4 linked regions of the Homo sapiens genome follow. The protein of the gene in region 2 interacts with the protein of the main gene of each other region in a pairwise test. Each region holds a gene or a part of one and is shown on either strand. Other genes may lie near its edges. The genes, in order: RNF11, GPR75-ASB3, ATXN3 and KIF1B.

Region 1 (7,035 bases), on a different chromosome or scaffold from region 2:
TGTTGTTGTTGAGATGGAGTTTCACTCTTGTTGCCCAGGCTAGAGTGCAACAGCGCAACCTAGCCTCAACACAACCTCCACCTCCTGGGTTCAAGAGATTCTCCTGCCTCAGCCTCCCAAGTAGCTGGGATTACAGGCATGTGCCACCACACCCGGCTATTTTTGCATTTTTAGTAGAGACGGGGTTTCTCTATGTTGGTCAGGCTGGTCTCAAACTCCTAACCTCAGGTGACCCGCCCACCTCAGCCTCCCAAAGTACTGAGATTACAGGTGTGAGCCACTGTGCCTGGCCACCTGTCTTCTTTCTTGACTGTGTCTCAGCCAAGGTAAATTCTGCACATGAAGAGGGAAGTGATAAGAGGTTGATTGCAGATACAATCAGAATTAGAGATGTGTTGTATTTCTTTTCTTGCCTCAAGTCGTTTGCAAATATGTCTTTTATGTATTACCTTCCTTACTTCAGGTACAGAGTTAGGGATGTATTTCTGTCCTGTACTCATATGGGTTATTAAAAATAGGCTGTTGGTGTCCAGCCCAGTAGCTCACGCCTGTAATCTCAGCACTTTGGTAGGCCTAGGTGGGTGGATCACGAGGTCAGGAGTTAAGACCAGTCTGGCCAACATGGTGAAACCCCATCTCTACTAAAAATACAAAAAATTAGCCAGGTGTGGTGGTGCTTGCCTCTAATCCCAGCTACTCAGGAGGCTGAGGCATGAGAATCGCTTGAACCCAGGTGGCAGAAGTTGCAGTGGGCTGAGACTGCACCACTGCACTCCAGCCTGGGCGATGGAGTAAGACTCCATCTCCAAAAAAAAAGGCTGTTGGGTGGGCATGGTGGCTCACACTTGTAATCTCAGCACTTTGGGAGGCCGAGGTGGGTGGACTGCTTGAGTTCAGGAGTTTGAGACCAGCCTGGGCAATATAGTGAGACCCCGTCTCTACTAAAAATACAAAAAATAGCTGGGTGTGGTGGTATGCACCTGTGGTCCCAGCTATTCAGGAGACTGAGATGGGAGGACTGCTTGACCCGTCTCTACAAAAAATAAAAATTAGCCAGGCAAAGTGGTGCACGCCTATAGTCCCAGCTACTCAGGAGGCTGAGGTGGGAGGATGGCTTGGGCCCGTGAGGTTGAGGCTTCAGTGAGCCGTGACCATGCCACTACATTCAGCCTAGGCAACAGAGTAAGATTATGTCTCAAAGAAAGAAAAAGAATCCCAATCTACATAAGTATTTCTATTAAAACTTTTAAAGATCAAAATTCTGCAACAAAGGTTTCTACTATTACCTAAAAAATATTTTAAGAAAATCAAGTGCTCAGATCTTATGTACCAAGTAACTCACCATCCCATCTCCATCTTCTCAAGTTACCCTATAATTAGCTCTAGAATTAAACTCTGAACAGACTATCTTACTCTTAGTGATGCATACAATCTTAATGCCAAAAAATCAGCCTTTATTAAAGCACATTCAGAATGAGAGGTCAGGCAGAAACAAAGAAAAATCCTGCAACAATGGGGTCACACAAATAACAAATAACTGGTTACTTATTTATAAAAGTCACCTAGGCAAGCTGAACTTCATGGAACACAAAACCAAATTCAGGCTGGGCGCGGTGGCTCACGCTTGTAATCCCAGCACTTTGGGAGGCCGAGGCAGGAGGATCACAAGGTCAGGAGATCAAGACCACGGTGAAACCCCGTCCCTACTAAAAATACAAAAAATTAGCCAGGTGTGGTGGCGGGCACCTGTAGTCCCAGCTACTCGGGACAGGCTGAGGCAGGAGAATGGCGTGAACCCGGGAGGCGGAGCTTGCAGTGAGCTGAGATCGCGCCACTGCACTCCAGCCTGGGTGACACAGCGAGACTTCGTCTCAAACAAACAAACAAAAAAAAAAACAAATTCAAAAAATATATAATGAAATTAACTTTCCCAAAGCTCAACGTACTTTATAAATTAGAAGTGATAGGCCAAACACTAAAGCACAGGATTCTGGGAATGCTTAATAGACACTAACAACCATACAATTGCACACTCTTACAGCAAAATGCTGATCATTACATTCACTAAAGTATAAGTGCGTGCTTTGTGAAAATTGTAGTTCTAGCAATGTGAAAATGAACCAGACTTGAATTCTAAAAGAGCAGATGTGACACTGTCACAAATAATTAAAATTAAAAGGGTAAAGTGTCTTAAGAATGGTGCATGAATAAAGGAGTTCAGATTAAGAAAAGTGTATGTAGGAGAAATCAGAATTCGTGGATTCTTGGCATTTGAACTGGGCCCTGGATATTAGAAATGAGACTGGGAAGGATTAAGGAAGAACATTCTGGGCAATGGATACAGAATGGGCAAAGACAGGAAAGCAGAAGACATACATGGAATACAGCAAACTGCTCAGTATGACTGGAGTATACAGGTTGTATAAAAGAAAGCACAAGGCTATGAAGAGCTGAAAAAGTATATGTAGAGCCAAATCATGACTTTGAATGCTAAGTCAGATATCTTCAGTGGTTAGTCCTAATAAAGAATCATTAAGGGCCGGGCGTGGTGGCTCACGCCTGTAATCCCAGCTCTTACGGAGGCCAAGGTGAGTGGATTACCTGAGGTTAGGAGTTGCACACCAGCCTGAGCAATATGGTGAAACCCCATTTCTATTAAAAATACAAAAATTAGCTGGGTGTGGTGGCGCATGCCTGTAATCCCAGCTACTCGGGAGGCTGAGGCAGGAGAATTGCTCGGACCCGGGAGGCGGAGGCTGCAGTGAGCTGAGGTGGCACCACTGCACTCCAGCCTGGGCAACAGAGTGAAGACTCTGTTTCAAAAAATAATAATAATAATAATAACAATCATTAAGGATTATGAGGCAAGTGATCTGATCCGGGATGAAATTTATCTGGCAACATGGTATAAAATGAATGAGGAGGAGACATCAATTATGTTGCTGTAAGAACTGATGAGGACAATTATGATGGTGACCTTACAAGGTAAGAAGTCACAGTTCTAATTTAGTCTATCATCAAATATTCACTGGGTGTCTACAATATGGAAGGTAACATTCTACTCCACTAAGATATCTTACAAGTTTAATGTATCATTCTCATTCTTGAGGAAACTGATGTGGAGAAACAACTGTTAAAGCAACAAAAGCTAATAAGGCAATATATGATTTCCAGATAAATGTTACAAACACAAAAAAACTGTACATGACAAATCAGCAGAGACAGGAAAAAAATGGTCAGTGAAGGCTTTATTAACAAAGGTGGAGTTAGTTGATCTGCCCCTCAATAAGAAGGCTGAACTTCTTGAGCATAAAGAAGGGGAGGGATAAAACTTCAAAAAGGTAAATTGTTAAAAGCTGAATAATTGTATAATAAGGCCTAGATACGTGAAATAAATTTGGAGATATTTTCCACCCAAATGTTAAACAAAATGCTAATAAAAAAACACAACCCTTTAATTATCTAAATTTAACTTCGTAAGTTATCAGGAAAATGAGGCATTAATATACCATTACAGGCAGGGCACAGTGACTCACATCCGTAATCCCAACACTGGGAGACATGGTGGGAGGATCACTTGAGCCCAGGAGTTCGAAACTAGCCTGGGCAAAGTGAGACTCCATCTCTAAAAAAAACAAGCCCATCCCCCACAAAACATTATAGCATTGCATGCTTAAAAATAAGCAGTACATTCTAGATTTTTTATAAGGAAGGGGGTTATTTTTAGTGCATTCTACAGGATAAACCAATCCTTTTAACAACAAAAGAGGGTTTTTGGTTTTGTTTGTTTTTTGTTTTTGTTTGGTATTTTAATAGAGATGGGGGTCTCACTTTGTTGCCCAGGCTGGTCTCGAATTCCTGGGGTCAAGTGATCCTCCTGCCTCTGCCACCTAAGTGCTGGGATGACAGGTGTGAGCCACTGTGCCCAGCCAAAAAAAAAAAAAAAAAAAGGTATCTTGAAGAAAGCTTTATGCAGACACAATTTGAAATATCCAAAATGTTACATTTTCTTATTTGTCAAAAAAGCTCCCCAAAACAATCTGATAAATTCTTTCCTTTTTCATATTTTACATGTAAGCGGCAGAGCCAGAATTTGAACACAGGACAATCTGACTCTAAAAGCAGAGCTATACTTGCATTCAATGCTATACAAACTTATTTTCTCAGGATTTTAAAATTTCAAATGTATCAATCAAAAAGTATAGGTCGGGGAAGAAGACTGGCGAATCTCAAACTATATAACTACTGCAAAATTGAGAGACACCTATCCTTATTTTTATATATTCAGATTAGAAAATGTAACATGGTTTGTTGTTCAATGAATATTACACTCTTTTAACAAAGTGCCTCCCTCAATTTAGCACATAACAAAGCTCTTGACAGTGACACAGGGGTACCTCAAGCTGTTTTACATATGCCTTTCAGGGCTGGGCTGCCTACCTGGCCTCCCCCTCTCATGGACCTCCCTTCTTCAGCCTTTCCTGGCTTATCCTCCCACTCACTGTCCTTCCAAGATTGCCTTCGCTGGGCAGATTTCCTCTGTATTATTTTTAAACATTTAGGAATAAGGGAGTTGGGTAGAGGGTGCGACAAATTTGTTTCTACTTTCTAATTTGACAAACACCCTAAATCTCTTTGCATCCAATACTTCAAGAATAGGGATTCAAGTACTTTCTTTTTCTCCCCCAAGTACTTTCCCATTACATAAATATCTTGCGGTGATATATATACACGGTAAAAACCCCTAAATCACTTAACACTTAGTGTAAACCAATTGCTGTATTTAATATTACTGGAATTTGACTTTTTAGGATTCCTTAAAACTGATCTACAACAGCTAGACACGGTGGTGTAACCCTGTAGTCCCAGCTACTCAGGAGGCTGAAGCCACAAGATCCTTTGAGACCAGGAAGTGGAGGCTGCAATGCACTATAATTGCACCTGTGAATAGCTACTGCCCTCCAGCCTGGGCAACACAGCAAGACCTCATCTCTAAAGGAAATAAATTTTTTTTAAAACCTGAGCCAGGCAGAGTAGAAGTGCACCTGTAACCCTAGCTACTCAAGAGGCTGAGGCAGGAGTATCCCTTGAGCCCAGGAGTTTGAGACTAGCAACATAATGAGACCCTGTCTCTATTTTTTAAATTTAAAAAATATAAAGGGCAGGCTCAGGGGCTTACGCCTGTAATCCCAGCACTCTGGAAGGCCAAGGTGGGCAGATCACCTGAAGTCAGGAGTTTGAGACCAGCCTGGTCAACATGGCAAAACTCCATCTCTACCAAAAGTACAAAAATCAGTTGGCCTTGGTGGCGCATGCCTGTAGTACCAACTACTCCAGAGGCTGAGGCAGGAGAATCGCTTGAACCCAAGAGGCAGAGCCAAGATGACACCACTGCACTCTAGCTGGGCAACAAGGTGAGACTTGGTCTCAAAAAAGAGAAAACAAAAAAACCCAAACATATATATACAGAGAGAGACCAGCCTGGGTAACACAGGGAGGCCCAGTCACAAAACAAAAAAACAAACAAAAAAAAACCTGATCTACAATATAGAAGCAAAAATGGCACTAGGAATATGCAGAGTTCTTGTAAGCAGTGCAACTATACCTGCCTCAAATACATTAGTTCATTTAAAAGAAATCTATTCATTCGTTCAACCAAATTACTGAATGCCTAACATGTGCCAGGCACTGTTATAAGTACTTAGGAAACACCAATTAAAAAAAAAAATCCCCTTTCCTCCTTTCTACCTAGTGGGAGAAGACAGGTAATAGACAACGCAACTTTCTAACACATGTTGGAATGTAATAAATGGTATTGGGGGGGAAAACAACAGGGTGAGAGGGACTTCCAGGTTATTAGGGCAGGTTGCACTTTCAAACAGGGTGGTCAGAGAAGGTTTAAGGGGGCAGTGAGAAAAGACTTGAAGGAGGTAAGGGAGTCAGTCAGCCATGAAATCTGGGGAAGAGTATTCCAGAATAAGGAGGACAAAGGTCCTAGAATAGCAATGAGGACAGGGAAGCTGGAGGGAAGCCAACAAAGGGGTTAGCTGTAGGTGTCAAGGGACATGCGTGGAAACAAGGGGTACAGATTATGTAGGGTTTATGCGACACTATAAGGAATCTGATTTTTACTTTGAATGAAACAAGGATCCACACAGAGGGTTGGGGAGACTGTCATGCTCAGTTTTACCAAAATAACTGTGGCTGTTGTATTGAGGACAGGCCTTAGCGAGGACAAGGGTGAAAGCAGGGATAACTGTTAGGAGGCTACAAAAGAAACCATGGAAAGAAATATACACTTCCTACAAACTTGGATCATAATGGTGCAGGGATTTACTTTAAGGCAAAAATAAATAAAAACAAATTTGTCAGATGTTAATAGGAAATAACTGTAACTGGCTCTTGTCATTATATGTACATTGTACATATAAAGCAGCAAACAATGACATCTTTTAACTACTCACCTCAAGAGAACATGTTCCTTTACAATCAGCTATTCACTGTTAATTACATATAATTTGTTGAAAAAGTTACTTTTATCAACTGAGAATACTATAAATCTGCTGTGTGAGGTAGCTAACGCCTGTAATCCCAGTCTTTGGGAGGCTGAGGGAGGAGGATCACCTGAAGCCAGGAGTTTGAGGCTGCCAAGTGAGCAATCCAGTCTAACCTGGATGACAGAGGGAGATTCTCAACTCAAATAAATGAATAAATAACCTTGGATTGCTGTTTCTCAGATCATCTAAAATAACCATTCCTAAGACAGATCTTATTTCTTTGGGGGTGGGGGACAATACTTTTTCTCCAAAAGTTTCTTTTTATGCTCCCATGTTTTAAAGTAATTTTCTTCTGATTGATACTGAATTTGTATATTAGTCTGCGTCATTCACTTCAGGAAACTGCAACCATAAAAAACTCCCACTGTCAAAAATATAACATTTCCAAAAAAAGTTCCTTCATGACACCAAAAACCCCTCATCCCTCATCATCACCTAGTTCTTCTGGAAAAGGCAAACACAGTTTCCATAAATTCTA
Region 2 (7,035 bases):
ACTCGGGAGGCTGACACAGGAGAATCGCTTGAACCTGGGAGGCGGAGGTTGCAGTGAGCCGAGATTGTGCCACCGCACTCCATCCTGGGCAACAAGCATGAGACTCCATCTTAAAAAAAAGAAAAGGGAAAAAGGGAAGGAGGGAGGGAGAAAGGGAAAGAAGGAGGGAGTAGGTAGGCAAATCAGTCTAAAAGGTGAACTTAAAAACAAAATAATTCGAGGCTGCCCCTGGGTGTGGCAAGAAAAAAATTTAGAAGAAAAAGAAAACAAAAGAAAATCTATGCCTATTTAAATCTCAAAAATAGAAATAACTGATCAATACTGAAAGGTAACAGTTATAAGATAAGGTTGAGCAGAGTTCTAATTGAATATCTATTCTGTCTTCTCTATACCTCTCATGACCCCTGTATTTGGGGAGAGCTGAGGGAGGAAACTATAAATTAAATGCCTTTCAGCTGGATGTGGTTTCTCATGCCTGTAATCCTAGCACTTTGGGAGGCCGAGGTGGGTGGATTACTTGAGGCCAGGAATTCAAGACCAGCCTGGCTATCATGGTGAAACCCTGTCTCTACCAAAAATACAAAAATTAGCCAGGAGTGGTGGCGGGCACCTGTAATCCCAGCTACTCTGGAGGCTGAGGCAAGACAATCGCTTGAACCCGGGAAGCGGAGGTTGCAGCGATCTGAGATCATGCCACTGCACTTTAGCCTGGGTGACAGAGTAAGACTCTGTTTCTACAAAAAAAAAAAAAGACTTTTACGCAAAGGAACAAAGTACCTTCCAATCTGCAATAATAACTCTTGAATATAACAATTTATAAAGATAGGTGTTGTATATTGATGCTCATCTTGTGTGTCTAACATTTAAAAACCTAGTGAGTTCAAATACTAACTGTATACTGAAAATATTTTTACAATAAAATATGAGTTCACAGTTGTTATGCTAGGAATCTCAGAGCATATAGTAAAATTAGTTTCAGGTATAGAAATACTTAAATCTATTTTTTCTTTCTGCCCATTTCCACTTTAAGATTAATGGGAGAGAAATAAAATGATTAGTTTGAAAATAGATTATCTTGAGAATTTTTCTACCATAATAATAAATAAAGACAAAAAAGAAGTCATTTCTAAATAGTTACTTGAATACTGTCAGGTGGTTAGTAAACTCTTCTCACACAGAAGGAAAACATAAATCAAAACATTCCCAGTCTTATCTGTAAACCTTGTTAAGCAATAATAAATATTGCCCAATGCATGACAGGAGTCCACACTGTTTTCCACAGAACACCGAGATGATTACCGCAGTGCCTTCTCTCCTGGGAACAGTGCACCTCTACCATAGATGCAGTCCTCTTCACTAGGCTTCTTGAATAAGATCATTCAGAAACAATTCACTTTTGGGCCAGTTGGGGTGGCTCATGCCTGTAATCCCAGCACTTCGGGAGGCCGAGGCAGGCAGATCACCTGAGGTCAGGAGTTCAAGACAAGTTCAAGACCTGTCTCTACTAAAAAATACAAAAATGAGCTGGGCATGGTGGCACACGCCTGTAATCCCAGCTACTCAGGAGGCTGAGGCAGGAGAATCACTTGAGCCCGGGAGGCGCAGGTTGCAGTGAGCAGAGATCATGCCACTGCACTCCAGCCTGGGCAACAGAGCAAGACTCCCTCTCAGGAAAAAAATAAATAAATAAATAATTCACTTTTAACAAGCAAAAATATATTTCTTTTCTTTCTTTCTTTCTCTTTTTTTCATTTTTTTGAGATGACATCTCGCTCTTGTCACCCAGGCTGGAGTGCAATGGCACGATCTCAGCTCACTGCAACCTGTCTCCCAGGTTCAAGCGATTCTCTTGCCTCAACCTCCCGAGTAGCTGGGATTACAGGTGCTTGCCACCATGCCTTGCTAATTTTTGTGTTTTTAGTAGAGACGGGGTTTCATCATGTTGGCCAGGCTGGTCTCGAACTCCTGACCCTCAGGTGATCCACCCGCCTCAGCCTCCCAAAGTGCTGGGATTACAGGTGTGAGCCACCATGCCCGGCCCAAATATATTTCTTTTCAAAAGAATTGTAAACCTACTCAACTGACATAAAACATGTCTATAATAAGAAATGGCAATAATCATAATACTATATTCTTAGTTGACTGTCCTATGAAAGAAAAGTACCTAATACCTGTGTGAGTGTTTTTGGTAAAGACAGAGTTATCACCTTTTCTGCCTTAAGAATATATATATTTCTGGCTAAGCACAGTGGCTCATGCCTGTAATCCCAGCACTTTGGGAGGCCGAGGCAGGCGGATCACCTAAGGTCAGGAGTTGAAGACCAGCCTGACCAACACAGAGAAACCCTGTCTCTAATAAAAATACAAAAATTAGCCGGGCATGGTGGCATGCGCCTGTAATCCCAGCTACTTGGGAGGCTGAGACAGGAGAATCACTTGAACCCGGGAGGTGGAGGTTGCGGTGAGCCGAGGTCATGCCATTGCACTCCAGCCTGGGCAACAAGAGTGAAACTCCGTCTCAAAAAAAAAAAAAAAAAAAAAAAAAAAAAAAGAATATATACATTTCCTTTAGAGACAGGGTCTTGCTGTGTTGCCCAGGCTGGACTCATAATCCCGGGCTCAAGTGATCCTCCTGCCTCAGCCTCCCAAGTAGCTAGGACTACAGGTGCATGCCACTGCACCCAGCTAACAATATATTATTTATTCAAATCAACCTGCTACCAACAAGGTGTAGTGTTCCCGATTTCAACACTTCAAAAAATCAAAATTTACAATTCAATTAATAAAAATAACACCTCAGCAAAAATCATATTTTCACATTCTTTAAAAAAAATCCAGTCAATACCTTATTTTGAAGTCACATAACACTGACTCAAATCATGATAATCGGTTGACTTTCTACTTTAACACAGTAGCTTCATTCCTGGCATCTATTTAAAGGCTCGGTACAAAAGACTGAGGCAAAGAGCAGGGTAAAAAATCTAAAACTTTCACATCAAATCTTAAGATGTCAACAAACTACAAAGCAAATCAACAGATACTGACACATCAGATGAAAGAAAACCATAACTGCCAACTTTTCAGTTGAATCTTGTAGGTTTTGATCCGCCACTGATCTCAAGTTAGAATAAAGTCCATTACTATCAGAAACAAAAACTGTTTACATAAGATCCTATAGCCTCCATGACTTTAAACGGAGGGGACTGGAATCTGCTTGGCTGAAGTGCTGTCATATTCCTGCACTAAGTCATTAGTGGTGTGATAATGCATGGCAATATATGAATTGGCAAATCCAAAAGAGTTTACTGGCTGTAAGTTACATGGGCTGCTCTCCTCCTGGGAAGGGCTGCTGTTATAGATGCTGTAGTAAGGTTCAATCCGAGTGTTGATGGGGGTCGAGCTGCTCTGACCACAGTGTTGATGTCCAGCAGAGATCTTGGGACTCACCATACTTTCTTTTGAATGACTTGGGCCACAAGCCTGGTCCACAAATTTCTTCTGTGGCTTTGGAGATAACATGTAGGCAGAGTTTGTTTCATGATGGGAGGATTTGTTTCTGTTGACTTCGAGGTTCCCTTTTCCCATGGCTCGAAGTCGAGTCTTTTGTTTGCAGCAGAAAAAACCCAGGCCTATGTATTGGAGGCACCAGAGCACTTTCCTTCTCAGCCCTGCACTGTTCCGAGAATATATAAAAGGGTTTAATCCTGACTTGAAAAATATAAGAGTAAATCCAAACAATTCAAACTGGTAAAGAATGAAGCTCCCATTGCTGGAGAGAACCACCTGTACCAAGGAAATCCCCAGTGGAAGACAGCACACCAGGACTGACAGCACAATGATCACACAGGTGACCACGGCTTTGGAATCCTTGGCAGTGGAGAGGTTGATGGCTGATACGAGCTGGAGTCGGCTTGCTGCAGGGGTGACCAGTTGGTTGGGACTCTTGGTATATCCACGGGTCTGAACGTGCTGCAGTTTGTTGTAATTCTGGTTCCTATACAGAGCCGGCATGGCACACTGGATGGGATCTCCACCTCCCTGCACAGGGACCCCCATGAAAGGCTGTGGTCTGGAAGCATCGACTGTGATTACAGGGGGGCACTTTCTGACTTGAGCGTTCTTCCGCAGGGTCTGAGCAATCATGATGTAAGAGACAGAGACCACAGCAACACAGAAGGTGAAGTCGACCACATAGAGAGACAAAATGGCTTTCCCTTTTCCAGCAATCAGACTGGACATGGGAAGACAGAGGTGGGACTTGCTGGTTTTCAAGGTAGCCAAGGTGGCAAGGGTGAAACTGGTGGCCCAGAGAAGCAGGGTGAGGAGTACGGTGCAGGGAAAGGAGGCCGTGCGATTAGGCTGTTTCCCCAACACCATCCGGAGCCGGTGCAGGGCGATCACTGCCACTGTCTTCAGAGACATGATGATGAAGCCTGAACTGGTGAGATGGAAAGTGAAGCAGAAAGCATCCGGGATACTACTGGCTGAGCTGAAGAATAACACAAAGGTGAACATGGGGGCTGTCACTCCACAAATGAAGAGGTCACAGAAGGACAGGTTCAGGATCATGAAATCAAAGTTGGTTCTGAATTTCCTGAAGGCTGGATCGAAGAAGGACAAGAAGACAATGAAGTTGCCATAGGAACCCAGGCAGAAGATGACCGCCAGTAGAAAAGTACAGGTCACCAAGGTGGCTGTGTGGATGAGATCCTGAAGACCCTCCTGGAGAGAGGTGCTGTTTCCTTCCTGTGAGTGAGGCACATGGAGCGAGGTGGCATTGGGGGCATCCTGAAGGTGGCCTGTTGAGTTCATTTTCGGAGAGAAATGTCTCCTTCTTCTGCTCCCCAAAAATACTCAGTGAGTCAGGGCCTCAGCTCACAGATGAGCAATATGTGACAAAAGAGGCCCAAGACAGATAAGCCTACACACAAAAATGCACACCCAGAAACAGAAAGGGATTAATGTAGAAACAGAAAGGAATTCATACAGTGATCTCATTATTAGTAGTAGTATTAGTACTAGTATCTCTCACCTTGAGAGAAAAATTTATTCATTTATTAGCAATGGGGTCTTACCATGTTGCCCAGGCTGGACTTGAACTCCTGTGCTCAAGCAGTCCTCCTGGCTTAGCTTCCCAAGTAGCTGGGACTACAGGCATGCACCACCAAACCCAGCTCTCTCTCTCTCTTTTTTTTTTTTAACAAAACACTAGAATTTTTCAGCTCTGATTTGGTGCATAGACAGCATTTCTCCTCACAAAGGCCAACACAGAAAAAGATACAAATACATTCATCCAGCTAATATTTAGTTTTATGACACAGAGGTTTTCAAACAAGTTTAAGTGTCACCTGAAGAGCATGTTAAAAAGTTTAAGTTATCACTTGGAGAGCAGATTTCTTGGCCTCGCCCCTTGTGATTCTGTTTGAGGGGTGTGCAGATGTTACTTTTAGAAACACTTCTGTGTCAGGCACTGAAGATACACAAGAACGTAATCTCTCCACCAAAGAGATGACAATCTAGTTGGAGATCAATCTAACTATGTAATAATTACAGCCTAATAAGGTTGCAGGGTGCTATGAGAGCATGGAAGGGGGGAACCTACTCCAACATGGAAAGGGAGCTGGGAAAGGATAAAGGGAGCTTTAGCAAGCACAGGCCAGCTGGATGAAAGGTCGGGGGTATGGAGTGGGGACAGACAGGCTAAGAGAAGTGGGGGTAGGTCTTTGCAGCAGAAGCACTGCGGCAAAAAACTGCATGTGCTTGAAATATAGGCTGGAGGGTATTGTTGATGCATAATGTGGCCCTTCACATAATTCCCATAAATCATTAACAAACCCTGTTTCGTTCCCTATGAAGAATCCTTTATTTCCCAGTATTTATAATTTTTCCCCCAGCTTGCAATTTCTTGGCCAATTAACTACATATTCTCCTTTGGAAAAAAACCTTGTGTAGGACTACATGTGAGACGGAAAACTGGAAGTAACCAAGGATGTTGGAATTATATTAGAAATTTACAAGGTGCAAAGCACCACATTGTAAAGTCTAAACTGCTATATAAATGTGAGTTACCATTATCCCAACAAGAATATCCTGATGGTGAAGCAGGAGGCATGCACCCATTCCTGCATTCGTTCGCTCAATTTATATTAATTATGTGCATACCATATGCCAGCATTACGCCAGGTGCTAGGTGCTACGATGAGTAAGGCAGTCTCTACTTTAAAAGAATAACTTCTTGCTCCTTTTTCCTAACTTTTTTTTTTCTATTTTGCAATGAGACTTAATGTGCACTCACACAAATCTACATTGTCCCAAATCCCAAAGTCCTGCAAGGGTTGGTGCCCAACCTGCTCCCAACAGATGCTTCTGGTGGGACCGACTAAGCTGTTCCTTGGAGACAGCACTATGTTCTTGACAACCAAAAAGGGTTTGCCTTAATCTAGAATTTTAGGAACAATAAGTGGCACTGCAGAGGTCCAGGGCTGATGTTCAGTGTACTTAACCACCAGCTCAAGCTGGATCCCAGAAGCCTCCAGCTGTTAACCCTTTAGTTGCCAGATCAAGGGGGTACAGCGGAATGAACCAGGTCAGTCAGGGATTACCTGGGGCTCCAATTAGCAGCTATGGACTACCCAATACAGAAGTCTCTCCACATTTAACAACAGATACAGCCATGCCAGTGACTATCAGACATATACCAGTCCTGGGAAATCCATATAATTGACTGGTGTCCTTAATCAAGGAAAAAGATAACTTAATCTATATTCTTAACATTCATATGGTACAGATCAGGACGATATGGTGAATTTGTCCACTGGAAAGTGAGACCAACTTTTCTATACTTTCCTTTCAAATAAAAGTTCCATAAGAGAAGAAAATCCTGAACTTTTGTTTCTTGATGGTTAGAATTTTTTAAAAATAGTACCAGATAGCTCTATTTCCACTTAAAGGCTGTATATTTGTTTCTGAACACTTTTGATACCTATATAATGAGAAAGACAATTTTTTTTTTTTTTTTTTTTTTTTTTTTGAGAC
Region 3 (7,000 bases), on a different chromosome or scaffold from region 2:
AATAAGCTCTAGTAATATAATGATTGTGTTGCAATTTGAATCCAACTAAGTTTTTTTTTTCCGTTTCTTTTTTTTTTTTTTTTTGAGACAGGGTCTGACTCTCTCGACCAGGCTGGAGTGCGGTAGTGTGATTATGGCTCACTGTAGTCTCTACCTCCCCAGTTTCAGGTGATCCTTCTTCCTCTGCCTCCCAAGTAGCTGGGACTATAGGCATACACCACCACATCTGGCTAATTTTTGTACTATTTGTAGAGATGAGGTTTTGCCATGTTGCCCAGGCTGGTCTCGAACTCCTGGGTTGAAGCAATCAGCCTGCCTCAGCCTCCCGAAGTGCTAGGAATATACCATACCAGCTAACTAAGTTAATATATTTAAGTATTTCAAAGAGTTGATTCAAGTTTAAACTAATAAACTTCACTAAAATATAAGGTCCAAAATAGAGTCGCCAACAACACAAGGACCACATATTCAATCTAAGCATGAAAATTTAATTCTCATAATGAAATACTACCATATATTCCATACTGCAGGCCTCATTTTTACCTTTGCTCTTTTAGTTGTGCTAATTCTTCTCCAATAAGTTTTGGTCGATGCATCTGTTGGACCCTAATCATCTGCAGGAGTTGGTCAGCTTCGCAATCTGGCAGATCACCCTTAACGACAAATATAGAATAACCTAAAAAAAAAAGGCAAAAATCAACCTAACCAGTTAGTAAAGAGATTCAAAATTGATGTAAAACACTAGTAGATAAAAAGGCAGCACAGAACACTGGAAAAAAATACAAGCTGAGGATTCAGAAAGACTTTAGTCCAAATAATGATTCTTATACTTACTAGTAAAGTCGTCTAAGGTAAGTTACTTAAAGTCTCTGAGCCTCACTTTCTCCATTGTAAGACTGGAAGAGCCGTCTCATTGAGTGACTGTGAGAAATAAATATGTCTGTAAAGGGCCCTACTAATATAGTACTTGACTGAGCAGGCTACTCACTTACTGTTGTCAGAGTGGGTAACAGCAACTGATTTAGAATCAGACTGCCTGCATCTGATCCCAGTTCTCCCACTTCCTAGCTGCATTTGTCTTGGTTTCTACTGTTAAACATATGATACTAGTACCTTCCTGTGATGGTTAATATTATCAACTTGATTGGATTGAAGGCTACAAATTATTGTTTCTGGGTGTGTCTGCGAGGGTGTTGCCAAAGGAGATTAACATTTAAGCCAGTGAACTGGGAGAGGTAGACCCACCCTCAAACTGGGTGGTCACCATCTAATCAGCTGCCAGCTCAGCTAGAATAAAGCAGGCAGAAATAAGAGTGTGGAAGTACTAGACTTGCTGAGCCTTCATCTTTCTCCCATGCTGGATGCTTCCTGCCCTCAAACATCAGACTCCAAGTTCTTCATCTTTTGGACTCTTGAACTTACACCAGTGGTTTGCCAGGGGCTCTCAGGCCTTTTGCCACAGACTGAAGGCTGCACTGTCAGCTTCCCTACTTTTGAGGTTTTGGGACTTGGACTGGCTTCCTGGTTCCTCAGCCTGCAGAGAGCCTATTGTGGGACTTCACCTTGTGATCATACGAGTCGATACTCCTTAATACATTACCCTTCATATATACATCTACCTTATTAGTTCTGTCCCTCTAGAGAACCCTAATACACTTACTCACAGGGCTGCTGTGAGGACACAGATAATGTGTGCAATAACTAGTAACATGGCTAAAACTAATCATCTGCGGAAAGAGCTACCCCCACCCTGACCCACACATGTACACCCCTTGTAACTAAAAATAGGGGCTGGGAAGCCAAATACCTAAAAGCTATTTAAGGTGTCAAACGTGTGGTTTGCATCCCAAAAGAATTACATTAGTCTAGTGTGACTGTGTCTAAATATGATTCCAGAAATCCAGGGTTTCCCCAAGCTAGATGCTACACACAAAAACCAAGGATGGGCTATACCTAAAACAATCTAACTGATTTAAGTTTCTCTATCATTAATTTTTTTTTTTTTTTAATTTGAGATGGAGTCTCACTCTGTCACCCAGGCTGGAGTGCAGTGGTGCAATATTAGCTCACTGCAACCTCTGCCTCCCAGGAGGTTCAAGCGATTCTCCTGCCTCAGCCTCCTGAGTAGCTGGGATTACAGGCACCCACCACCACACCCAGTTAATGTTTGTATTTTTAGGAGAGGCAGGGTTTCACCATGTTGGCTGGGCTGGTCTCGAACTCCTGACCTCAGGTGATCTGCCCACCTCGGCCTCCCAAAGTGCTGGGATTACAGGTGTGAGCCACCGCGCCTAGCACATTTTTCTTAAACTTTGGTGTTTGTTATTGGATATCCTTTGTTGGATTAACACATAATGGGACAAAGATTATAAGAACTATTAATGGAAAACCTCAAAATAGTATGTTGAACATTTTTTATGAGGACAACTGTATTCAGAGTTTAGACGGTTTAATGTGTTTTCTGCCAGTAAAATTGTTTCTGTATTGTATAATAAATATGCCAGCTCACCATGGTATTCTATGAAGAGTGTCTGAAGAATGGATACTCTGCCCTGTTCAGGGGCCATGGTAAAGATCTTGGGTTTTATTCAAGACTTCACATATTTTTTTTTTTTAATTTTTTTTTGAGAGTCTCGTTCTGTCACCCAGGCTGGAGTGCAGTGGTATGATCTTGGCTCGCTGTAACCTCTGCCTCCCGGGTTCAAGTGATTCTCCTATCTCAGCCTCCCGAGTAGCTGGGACTACAGGTGCACAACACCACACCCAGTTAATTTTTGTATTTTTTGGTAGAGACAGGGTTTCACCATGTTGGCCAGGCTGGTCTCATCAACTCCTGACCTCAAGTGATCTGCCCCCTCATCCTCCCAAAGTGCTGGGATTGCAGGCATGAGCCACCAAGCCCGGCCTAAGACTTCAGATTTTATTCTAAGTGTGCTGGGAAGCCACTGAAGGACAAAGAGTGAGGGTGGGACATAACAGGCCTTACACTGGTTAAGAAGCACTCTGGGCTGCTCTGTCGGTATAATATATAGGAACCAGAGTACAAGAGTCACCCTTATGGAAATGGAAAACCTGATGGATAGCATGGATAGAGAGAAAAAAATAAGTCTTTCATAGACATGTTCAGTTTGAAACACTTTTTGGATTTCCAAGTGGAGATGCCAAAGCTAGGAGTTAGTCAAAGCTAGGTGTTCAGGGTAGATGTCAAGACTAAAGATAAAAGTTTGGTAATTATTGACACATAGATCTTATTTACAGATGATATTTAAGATCCATGAAAGGAATCTGAAAAGTGCAGGCAGCAAGTTAGGAAAACCACAGCATGGTGGGCTGAAGGCCAAAGGTAGACAGGGTTTCTAAGAAGGGATATCATCAGGAACCAAGGTTTTAAATATAAAAGAAAAAAGATACAAGTATCTAAAATCAAAGAATTAAAAACCCTATATTCCTAAATGTGAATTCACAATAACTACATAACAAACCCAGCAGCAATAAGCATGCCAGCACTCAAATTGTGATCTCCAAATACCATTACTAAAAGATGGCTAGGCAAGGTGACTCACGCCTGTAATCCCAGCACTTTGGGAGGCTGAGGCAGGTGGATCACTCGAGGCCAGGAATTCGAGACCAACCTGGCCAATATGGTGAAACCCTGTCTCTACTAAAAATACAAAAAAAAAAAAAAAAAATTTAGCCGGGGCCAGGCGCAGTGGCTCATGCCTGTAATCCCAGCACTTTAGGGGGCCGAGGTGGGCGGCTCACCTGAGGTCAGGAGTTGGAGACCAGCCTAACAAACATGGAGAAACCCCTTCCATCTCTACTAAAATACAAAATTAGCCAGGCATGGTGGCACATGCCTGTAAATCCAGCTACTCGGGAGGCTGAGGCAAGAAAATCGCTTGAACCCAGGAGGCAGAAGTTACGGTGAGCCGAGATCACGCCATTGCACTCCAGCCGGAGCAACAAGAGGGAAACTCCATCTCAAAAAAAAAAAAAAAAAATTAGCCGGTCATGGTGGTGCACGCCTGTAATCCCAGCTACTCGGGAGGTTGAGGCAGGAGAATCGCTTGAACCCAGGAGGCAGAGTTCAAGAAAAGGAGAAGGCACACTAGAGACAATCCTAAGGAAAAAATAAAAATGGGGAGGCAGCTGGAGTTTCATGGAATTAAGAGAGGATTTTTATTTTTAATCAATGGAAATAAAAAGCTTATTTTACTGCTTATAGGAATATTACAAAAAAAGGGGGGGGGAACTGATTATATAAGAGAGTGGAGAGATGAAAGCAGGAACATCTTGAGTAGGTGAGAAGAGCTGGGATCCAGCCCACAAGTGAGGGACTGGTTTTGGTTAGAGGTAGGGGACCATTCATCTATTTAAATAGGCTCAAAGCACAGGTGAAGATATAAGCAAATTGATAAATTTGCTGGTAGAAAGAACATAATTTTAATTGCTTCTATGTTCTCAGCAGAATGTAACGGAAAGCCACAAGGAAGGTGTGTAAGGGAGAGGAAAGTGCTTAAAGGTTTAAAGACATAAGCTGTGAAATTAGTCACCTTGGAGGGTGGCACATTATTTTTTATAAACTTCTTGGAGAGTGGTACATAATTTTTTATAAACACCTTGGAGGGTGGTACATCACTAAGAAAACATAGTAGAAATATCAGACAGCACTAAAGGCTCATCTGAATTTTGTGATTATAATAAATTTAAAGTAAAACCTTAGCTAGGTGTGGTAGCACAAGCCTGTAGTCCCAGCTACTCAACAGGCTAAGGCAAGAGAATCACTTGAGCCCAGGAGTTTGGAGCTGCAATGAGCTGTGATTATGCTGCTGCACTCCAGCCTGGGCTTCAGAAATAGGCCTAGTCACTTTGATAGATGGATGGGTGAATGGATGGATAGATCATTTAAGAAAAAAGTAAAACCAATCATCATGTTTTATGTTATTTTTTAGCCACGTCCAGCTACTCTGGTACAGGAATGGACAAGGCCAAGATGTGGTTTAACCAGGGTTGAGATTTTTGTCATTCAAGTATGATGGAGGGAGAGAGGGGAAACACGTTGAAGAATGCAATGGAGTGATTATGATGACGGATTACAGAAAATAAGCAGTAGAAGAAAGGAAGAATGCGTATAAAGGAAATGCTTGGGCCCCACAGTAGGGTTTAAAGAATGGCTGGAATAAAAAAACAGACAAAACATGGTTTAAAGATAGGAGGTGGTAGTTAAAGAGTAATATGCTTGCAATTGAGATTTGACAGTGGTTATGATTACTGGTAATAGCTAAGCAAGAGTAAGTGATTTTGAAACTAAGAGGCAGGTACTGGATTGATTGACGATACAGAAATAATTAAGAATGATAAAAGTAGTTGAAGTAGAGAAAAAGACAACGAGTCAGATCCTAAAATCACTGATGAAAAGAGACTTGTGGATGAGTGCAAAAGGACAAGGGATAGTTTAATCTAGGGGCATGTATTTCTTTTTTTTTTCTTTTCTTTTTTTTTTTGAGACGGAGTCTCGCTCTGTCGCCCAGGCTGGAGGGCAGTGGCGCGATCTCAGCTCACTGCAAGCTCCGCCTCCTGGGTTCACGCCATTCTCCTGCCTCAGCCTCCCGAGTAGCTCGGACTACAGGCGTCCGCCACCACACCCCGGCTAATTTTTTGTTATTTTTAGTAGAGACAGGATTTCACCGTGTTAGCCAGGATGGTCTCGATCTCCTGACATCGTGATCCGCCTGCCTCAGCCTCCCAAAGTGCTGGGATTACAGGCGTGAGCCACCGTGCCCAGCCGTTAGGGGCATGTATTTCAAAGAAACTGGAGTTTATAAGGAAGAACAGTGGCCTAGAAGAGGCAAAGAAGAAAAACATCTATCCCTCCTCTCAGCCGTGTGATATGTGATGTATAAAAGAAAAAGCCATTACTTAGAAGGGCTGCAAAGAAAGCAGCATCCTCAGAAGAGGAAGGGCCAGGTGTCAGTGAGAACTCTAACTGAACAGCGTCACCCAAATCACAGCCTATCACCACGTCAAAACTAAAGATTGTTTCACTGCCACTGCCAGAAAAACAGTTTTATCACACTGTCATCTAATGTGCCTGGTTATTTAACTACTTCGAAAGGTAACATTACAAAATGTTCAGCCGTTACTTACCTTCCTGTTGTAATTGAGCCAAGAAAAGTGCAAGATATGTATCTGATATTAATTCTGGACCCGTCAAGAGAGAATTCAAGTTAAACCACTGGAAAAAAATTGTCAATATTTAAGTTAGTGTATATTATAGGTAATAAGGAAGTTTCACATGTTAAGAATAGATACAACCCATCAAAGCTTAGTAAGATTGTTTAAACTCTGGAAATATTTCAAGTTGAGCTCTTTTCTTTGACTGAATAATATGATCTTAAAAACTACAAGAGAATACTGCAGATTTATCACTATTAAATACTTTTTTTTTTTTTTGAGAAGAGTCTCACTCTGTAACCCAGGCTGGAGTGCAGTGGCATGATCTCGGATCACTGCAACCTCTGCCTCCCAGGTTCAAGTGATTCTCCTGCCTCAGCCTCCCAAGTAGCTGGGACTACAGGTCTGCACCACCACACCCAGCTAATTTTTGTATTTTTAGTTAGAGACAGCACATTTGCCACATTGGCCAGGCTGGTCTCAAACTCCTGACCTCAAATGATCCGCCCGCCTCAGCCTCCCAAAGTTCTGGGATTACAAACATGAGCCACTGCACCTGGCCTCTGCTAAATACTCTTTTTTTTTTTTTTTTTTTTTTTTTAGACAGAGTATTGCTCTGTCGCCCAGGCTGGAGTGCAGTGGCGCGATCTCGGCTCACTGCAAGCTCCGCCTCCCGGGTTCATGCCATCCTCCTGCCTCAGCCTCCCGAGTAGCTGGGACTACAGGCGCACGCCGCCACACCCAGCTATTTTTTTGTATTTTTAGTAGAGACAGGGTTTCACCATGTTAGCCAGGATGGTCTTGATCTCTTGACCTTGTGATCCGC
Region 4 (7,035 bases), on a different chromosome or scaffold from region 2:
CAGCTACTCGGAAGGCTGAGGCAGGAGAATCACTTGAACCCGGGAGGCAGAGGTTGCAGTGATCCGAGATTGTGCCACTGCACTCCAGTATGGGCAACAGAGCAAAATTCTGTCTCAAAAAAAAAAAAAAAAAAGCACAACTAAGTGTTCCTTAATGATGGGTGGGGTTGGGAGCAAGAGGATGGGGACCTATCTTTTCCTCCTAGGAGATAAGGGTTCCTCTCTGTTATTAGAGTTTGATAAACTGAAAGTGTCTGTTGGTTGGCGTATGGTTCTTTAGGATGATTGACAGTGGCAGTACCTGGACTAACGTGACTTTAGCTTCTTTTGGATGATTCCCTCTTGTCTTTCTGACCTTAGGACCTTCTACCGCTTTGAGGCTGTGTGGGATAGCTCTCTGCATAACTCCCTTCTTCTGAACCGAGTGACACCCTATGGAGAAAAGATCTACATGACCTTGTCGGCCTACCTAGAGGTGAGGAGACTTGGAACTTCAGTTGATGCCAACAGTCAGCCCTGAACAGTGTGCAGGTTACAGCAGGAAGTGGTCAGCGAAGATTCCACTTGTTTTGTCCTCTTTCTTCCTCCACATCCTTAAGTTTTTCATTTTATTATACATTGCTAACTCTTCTGATTATATTAGACTCTATTCCTGGGTTCTGTTTACTCAAAAAATCACATGACTCATTGCAGCTTCAGCTTTAGTAGCCTAATCACCATTGTTTGAAGAATGTGTGATTTTTAAGAAAATGTCACCTCTTGTTTTTGTAGTTGTGGACAGAGTGTAATAGTGGTTAATAGCCCAGACCCAAGACCCAGCCTGTCGGTTCAAATCCCTGTGCTGCCACTTACTTCCTCTATGTCCTTGGAGAAACTCTCTTTGCCTCAGTTTCCTCACCTATCAGGAGAAACAACATTTACCTCAGATAAAAATAAATGCATCTCTAAGGAGTACTACCTACTCTTGCACATATTATCCATTGGGTGGCTGTTGAAATAATTGGTGGAGCTAAAATCCTTCAGTTCTCACAACTGGGACTCGCTTTCCAAATACGTTCGTGTATAGACTCTAGTCACAGTACTCTGCCTGCACTTCATCAGCACCTACCCTGTCTGCTTTCAGCTGGATCATTGCATCCAGCCGGCTGTCATCACCAAGGATGTGTGCATGGTCTTCTACTCCCGAGATGCCAAGATCTCACCACCACGCTCTCTGCGTAGCCTCTTTGGCAGCGGCTACTCAAAGTCACCAGATTCGTAAGTTTTTCACACAAGTTAGCTTCCAGTGTGTTTGTTCAGTACAACAGAATCATTAGTCCTTAAGTATTCTCGGCTTACTGTCTCACGGTTAGTTTACAGTTTATGAACCATTTTGGTAACTGACACCTGGAATGTACTGACTTGCATGCTGACATTTAATAAAATGTTGATGGATGGACGAGTTATGAGGGAAGGAAGGAATATTACATTGTGAACACGTCTAAAACAATTTTGCAAAGACTAAATTTGCAAAGACTTTTAAATGTCATCATCATTATTTCTAACAGAGTACCATTGAAATTTTCTTCTTTTTAAGATTTGTTATGCATATTTAAGGCATACAAAATATGTCAGGAATAATACAGTGAAGGCCATACACAGTGGCTCATGTCTGTAATCCCAGCACGTTGGGAGGCTGAGGACAGAGAATTGCTTAAGCCTAGGAGTTTGAGACCAGCCTGGGCAACACAGACCCCATCTCCACAGAAAATTTTAAAATTACCCAGGTGTGGTGACACACACCTGTAGTCCCAGCTACTCAGGAGGCTGAGGTGGGAGGATCACTTGAGCTTGGGAGGTTGAGGTTGCAGTGAGCCATGATAGAGCCACTGCACTCCAGCCTGGGTGAAACAGTGAGACCCTGTCTCAAAATTTAAAAAAAAGAAAAGAAAAAGGAAAAAAAAAAAAAAGAAAGAAACAATACAATGAATACCTGTGTATCACCGCCCAGCTTAAAAATAAGTGTTACTAATACAATAGAAGGTATTATACCTCCTACTACTCACAATCCCCAGAAGTTGTTGATTATCATTTCATTCTAGTCATTGTTTCCCTCATATCGTCTCTCTTATAGTAAGAAAAGACAAATTTTTAGTTTTCACATTTATATTTTAAATTTTCTAGTTTATCATTCAATTTTATTCACCCTATTGAAATAAAGTGTTTAAAAGATAGAGATGAGGTGGGGCATGGTGGCTTATGCCTATAATCTCAGCACTTTTTGATGCCAAGGTGGAAGGATCACTTGAGGCCAGGAGTTCAAGACCAGCCTGGGCAACATAAGGAGACCCTATCTCTACAAAAAAACTTAAAAATTAGCTGGGTATAGTGGTGTATGCCTGAAGTCCCAACTACTCAGGAGGCTGAGGCAGAAGGATCACATTAGTCCAGGAGTTCGAGGCTGCAGTAAGTTGTGATTACATCACTGCACTCCAGCCTGGGTGACACAGGGAAACCCTATCTATAAAAAAATTAAATTGAGATGAAAGCGGACTCCTCTAGGAAAAGGTATGCTACTTAGGTTCAAAATAAGAAAAGAGCGGTGACAAATAAGAAATGCCTGGAATTATATTTGAGTCCCTGCAGAGAAGACACTATTTTAAGTAGCAGAAATTGAAATTTTCCTGTTTTTGTGCTTTAAGAGATTAAACAATTGTTTTATTTTCTTCAAATAGGAATCGAGTCACTGGCATTTACGAACTCAGCTTATGCAAAATGTCAGACACAGGTAGTCCAGGTAAGCTCTTGTGGATTGAGGAGGTGATAGTTATCTTTGTGTATGTTTCAAGTATCCTGTATTTAGGCTGGGCACGGTGGCACACACCTGTAATCCCAGCGCTTTGGGAGGCCAAGGCGGGTGGATCACCTGAGTCCAGGAGTTCAAGAGCAGCCTGACCAACATGGTGAAGCCCCCCTTTCTACCAAAAATACAAAAATTAGCCAGGTGTGGTGGCGCGTGCCTGTAATCCCAGCTACTCAGGAGGCTGAGGCATGAGAATTGCTTGAACCTGGGAGGCAGAGGTTACAGTGAGCCGAGATTGTGCCACTGCACTGCAGCCTAGGTGACAGAGTGAGACTCAGTCTCAAAAAAGAAAAAGAAAAAAAAATCAAATTATTAAGTCAGATTTGTTCTGTATTCTTTTTAATGTGTTTTTAAACTGCTCTTGTTCCTCTAGCTAGGCGGAGTTAAGCAGCACTTAGCATTTCTATGTTTGTAAACCGAAACATGAACAAAAGTTAAGGTTTTCTAATAGCATTTGATTAATGTGAGTTTGAGTCATTTTACAGAATATACATGGAAAACAAGTCAGGGCCCACAGGCAAGACTTAGATAAGTAAAGAAGACTTTGAGTATGAATCCAAGTAGCACCTAATTATTATACTATCCAGATAGTTTCTTGAGGAATTTTTTTAATTAATATAAATTCATGTATTTAATATGTAAAACCAGCATAATACTAAAAAAAATTAACAGGAAATAATAGAGGCTAAAGTTCTCTGTCATCTGTCAGCCAGTGAGCTACTGAGTGTGTGTATGTGTGTGTGTATTCCCTTCCGTCTTTTTAAAAATTTTTATTTTTAGGGACAGGATCTTTTTTTTTTTTTTTTTTTTTTGAGACAGAGTCTCGCTGTGTCACCCAGGCTGGAGTGTGGTGGCGCCATCTTGGCTCACTGCAACCTCTGCCTCCTGGGTTCAAGTGATTCTCCTGCCTCAGCCTCCTGAGTAGCTGGGTTTGCAAGCACCCACCACCATGCCCAGCTAATTTTTGTATTTTTAGTAGAGATGGGGTTTCACTATGTTGGCCAGGCTGGTCTCGAACTCCTGACCTCAGATGATAGCCCACCTCAGCCTCCCAAAGTGCTGGGATTACAGGCGTGAGCCATCACGCCCGGCCCCATAGTGTATAGACTACTACAGACTATTTAATATTTCTGCATTTTCACCTAACATCATAATTTTATCATTTTCTTAAATTGCATCCCAGTCTTCATAATTATCAAAGAATGTAAAACTCAGTTTTTAAAAACGTTCAGTTGCTTTGCTATTTAAACAAAATCCCATATATCTTCAGACCAAACTGTCTTAGTTTGCTACGTATAAGAATTATTAATTCGTGGCCAGGCGCGGTGGCTCACGCCTGTAATTCCAGCACTTTGGGAGGCTGAGGCAGGTGGATCACGAGGTCAGGAGATCGAGACCATCCTGGCTAACACAGTGAAACCCGGTCTCTACTAAAAATACAAAAAATTAGCTGGGCATGGTGGCGGGCACCTGTAGTCTCAGCTACTCGGGAGGCTGAGGCAGGAGAATGGCATGAACCCAGGAGGCGGAGCTTGCAGTGGGCTGAGATCACGCCACTGCACTCCAGCCTGGGCAACAGAGCGAGACTCCATCTCAAAAAAAAAAAAAAAAGAATTATTAATTCGTTTTGACCTAAACTTGGAATTGAATTTTTTTTCTGAAACAAAAACTTGTTTCCTCTTGTCTTAGGTATGCAGAGAAGGAGAAGAAAAATCTTAGATACGTCAGTGGCATATGTGCGGGGAGAAGAGAACTTAGCAGGCTGGCGGCCCCGTGGAGACAGCCTCATCCTTGAGCACCAGTGGGAGCTGGAGAAGCTGGAGCTCCTACATGAGGTATCCAGGGGCAGGGTTGTTCAGATGCAAGAACTCTCGGACAAGATTGCCAAAGTATCAGTCTTCCTCCCCGCTGCTGCATGTGATCATAGCTTTTCACTTTTCTCTCCTGAGGTCTTAACGAGCTTTGTGTTTGCTATAGCAGTAGTATTGATCTTCTCAGGTGGAAAAAACCCGCCACTTTTTGCTGCTGCGTGAGAGACTTGGTGACAGCATCCCCAAATCCCTGAGCGACTCGTTATCCCCCAGCCTCAGCAGTGGGACCCTCAGCACCTCCACCAGTATCTCCTCTCAGATCTCAACCACTACCTTTGAAAGCGCCATCACACCTAGCGAGAGCAGTGGCTATGATTCAGGAGACATCGAAAGCCTGGTGGACCGAGAGAAAGAGCTGGCTACCAAGGTGTGAATCCCTTCCTCTTTGCTGAACGTCTTCCCACAAGGCTCCACAAACTAGCCTCTCGGTTTATTCATTTTCAACACCTTTGTTCGAGGTGTTTGAAGGCCTGTGATAATACTGTGAATGTAGAAATAAAAAGACGCAGTTCCTACCCTCAACAAGCTTACAGGGCCAGGCACAGTGCCTGATGCCTATTATCCCACCACTTTGGGAGGCTGAAGCAAAGGGATTGCTTGAGCCCAGGAGTTAAAGACAAGCCCAGGCTAACATAGTGAGACCTTGTCTCTACAAAAACAAAAATTAGGCCAGGCATGGTGGCTCACACCTGTAATCCCAGCACTTTGCAGGGCTGAGGCAGGTGGATTACCTGAGGTCTGGAGTTCGAGACCAGCCTGGCCAACATGGTGAAACCCTGTCTCTACTAAAAATACAAAAATTAGCCAGGCGTGGTGGCGAGCGCCTGTAATCCCAGCTACTCAGGAGGCTGAGGCAGGAGAATTGCTTGAACCCAGGAGGCGGAGATTGCAGTGAGCCGAGATAGCTCCACTGTGCTCCAGCCTGAGCGACAGAGTGACACTCCATCTCAAAAAATAAAATAAAATAATAAAAAATTAAAAAATTAAAAAATATAAAGGTTGCAGAATATTAGGTCACAAGCATATAATAGAGATGTGTGTTTCAAATGCTATGGGAGTCAGAGGAGAAGTGTCTATGGTGGGGAGCTCATGAGCTGACCTTGAAAGGATGCGCAGGAGGGAGGCAGCAGTGTCGACACCTGCGTGATCAGGAGGGAGGCAGTGGTGTCCTGCGTGATCAGGAGGGAGGCAGCGGTGTCTTGCGTGATCAGGAGGGAGGCAGCGGTGTCCTGCGTGATCAGGAGGGAGGCAGTGGTGTCCTGCATGATCAGTCTTGGGGAATTCACGTGGGACTGGAACAGGAGGTGTGGAGTGAAGAATCTTGTATACTGCACTGAAGAGTTTAGAGTGGATGATGGGAGCAAGGCAGAAATATGTTAAACAGGTATTTGTGTTTTAGAAAGATTTCTGGCGAGGGGCGGTGGCTCACGCCTGTAATCCCACCACTTTGAGAGGCCGAGGCAGGTGGATCACAAGGTCAGGAGATTGAGACCATCCTGGCCAACATGGTGAAACCCCGTGTCTACTAAAAATACAAAAATTAGCCGAACGTGGTGGCGTGCGCCTGTAGTCCCAGCTACTAAGGAGGCTGAGGCAGGAGAATCGCTTGAACCCAGGTGGCGGAGGCTGCAGTGAGCCGAGATCGCGCCACTGCACTCCAGCCTGGGCAACAGAGTGAGACACCATCTCAAAAAATATATATATTTCTCTGGCAGCAATAAAGAGAATGGATTGATGGTGAAGAGATACACTGAGGAAGGGAGAATTCTTTATCTTTATTACAGTAATCTGATGAGAAATGATAAAAGCTTTTTAAAATTTTATTTTTTTTGAGATGGAGTCTCACTCCTGTCACACAGGCTGGGATGCAGTGGCATGATCTTGGCTCACTGCAACCTCCACTTCCCAGGTTCAAGCGATTCTCCTTCCTCAGCCTCCCAAGTAGCTTGGAGTACAGGCATGTGCCACCACACCTGGCTAATTTTTGTATTTTTAGTAGAGACAGAGTTTCACCATGTTGGCCAGGCTGGTCTTGAACTCCTGACCTCAGGTGATCCACCCGCCTCAGCCTCCCAAAGTGCTAGGATTACAGGTGTGTGGACGCCCAGCCAGATAAAAGTTTTTTAAAGAAGGCAGAGGTGGCTGGGTGCGGTGGCACACGCCTGTAATCCCAGCACTTTGGGAGGCTGAGGTGGGCGGATTGTGAGGTCAAGAGATCACTATGATGTTTTTATTTTTTATTTTTATCTTTATTAAATTTTTTTTTTTTTTGAGATGGAGTCTTGCTCTGTGGCCCACGCTGGAGTGCAGTGGTGCGATCTC

What was found.
Region 1: the proteins of GPR75-ASB3 (region 2) and RNF11 interact in binary tests that used the Homo sapiens proteins (3 or more experiments, as listed by UniProt).
Region 3: the proteins of GPR75-ASB3 (region 2) and ATXN3 interact in binary tests that used the Homo sapiens proteins (3 or more experiments, as listed by UniProt).
Region 4: the proteins of GPR75-ASB3 (region 2) and KIF1B interact in binary tests that used the Homo sapiens proteins (3 or more experiments, as listed by UniProt).

The regions. Positions count from the first base shown.
Region 1 is NC_000001.11:51,239,241-51,246,275, reverse strand, and holds part of RNF11 (RING finger protein 11), read right to left. Parts: intron 1-7,035. UniProt on the Homo sapiens protein: Essential component of a ubiquitin-editing protein complex, comprising also TNFAIP3, ITCH and TAX1BP1, that ensures the transient nature of inflammatory signaling pathways. Promotes the association of TNFAIP3 to RIPK1 after TNF stimulation.
Region 2 is NC_000002.12:53,849,945-53,856,979, forward strand, and holds part of GPR75-ASB3 (GPR75-ASB3 protein), read right to left. Parts: intron 4,922-7,035; exon of another isoform or gene 4,813-4,921; coding exon of another isoform or gene 3,190-4,812; exon of another isoform or gene 2,968-3,189; intron 1-2,967. Other genes in the region: GPR75 (probable G-protein coupled receptor 75), read right to left, coding at 3,190-4,812. UniProt on the Homo sapiens protein: Probable substrate-recognition component of a SCF-like ECS (Elongin-Cullin-SOCS-box protein) E3 ubiquitin-protein ligase complex which mediates the ubiquitination and subsequent proteasomal degradation of target proteins. Recognizes TNFRSF1B.
Region 3 is NC_000014.9:92,082,583-92,089,582, forward strand, and holds part of ATXN3 (ataxin-3 reference isoform), read right to left. Parts: intron 6,236-7,000; coding exon 6,148-6,235; intron 922-6,147; exon of another isoform or gene 831-921; intron 677-830; coding exon 544-676; intron 1-543. UniProt on the Homo sapiens protein: Deubiquitinating enzyme involved in protein homeostasis maintenance, transcription, cytoskeleton regulation, myogenesis and degradation of misfolded chaperone substrates.
Region 4 is NC_000001.11:10,360,569-10,367,603, forward strand, and holds part of KIF1B (kinesin-like protein KIF1B), read left to right. Parts: intron 1-360; coding exon 361-475; intron 476-1,123; coding exon 1,124-1,257; intron 1,258-2,714; coding exon 2,715-2,776; intron 2,777-4,531; coding exon 4,532-4,677; intron 4,678-4,840; coding exon 4,841-5,080; intron 5,081-7,035. UniProt on the Homo sapiens protein: Has a plus-end-directed microtubule motor activity and functions as a motor for transport of vesicles and organelles along microtubules.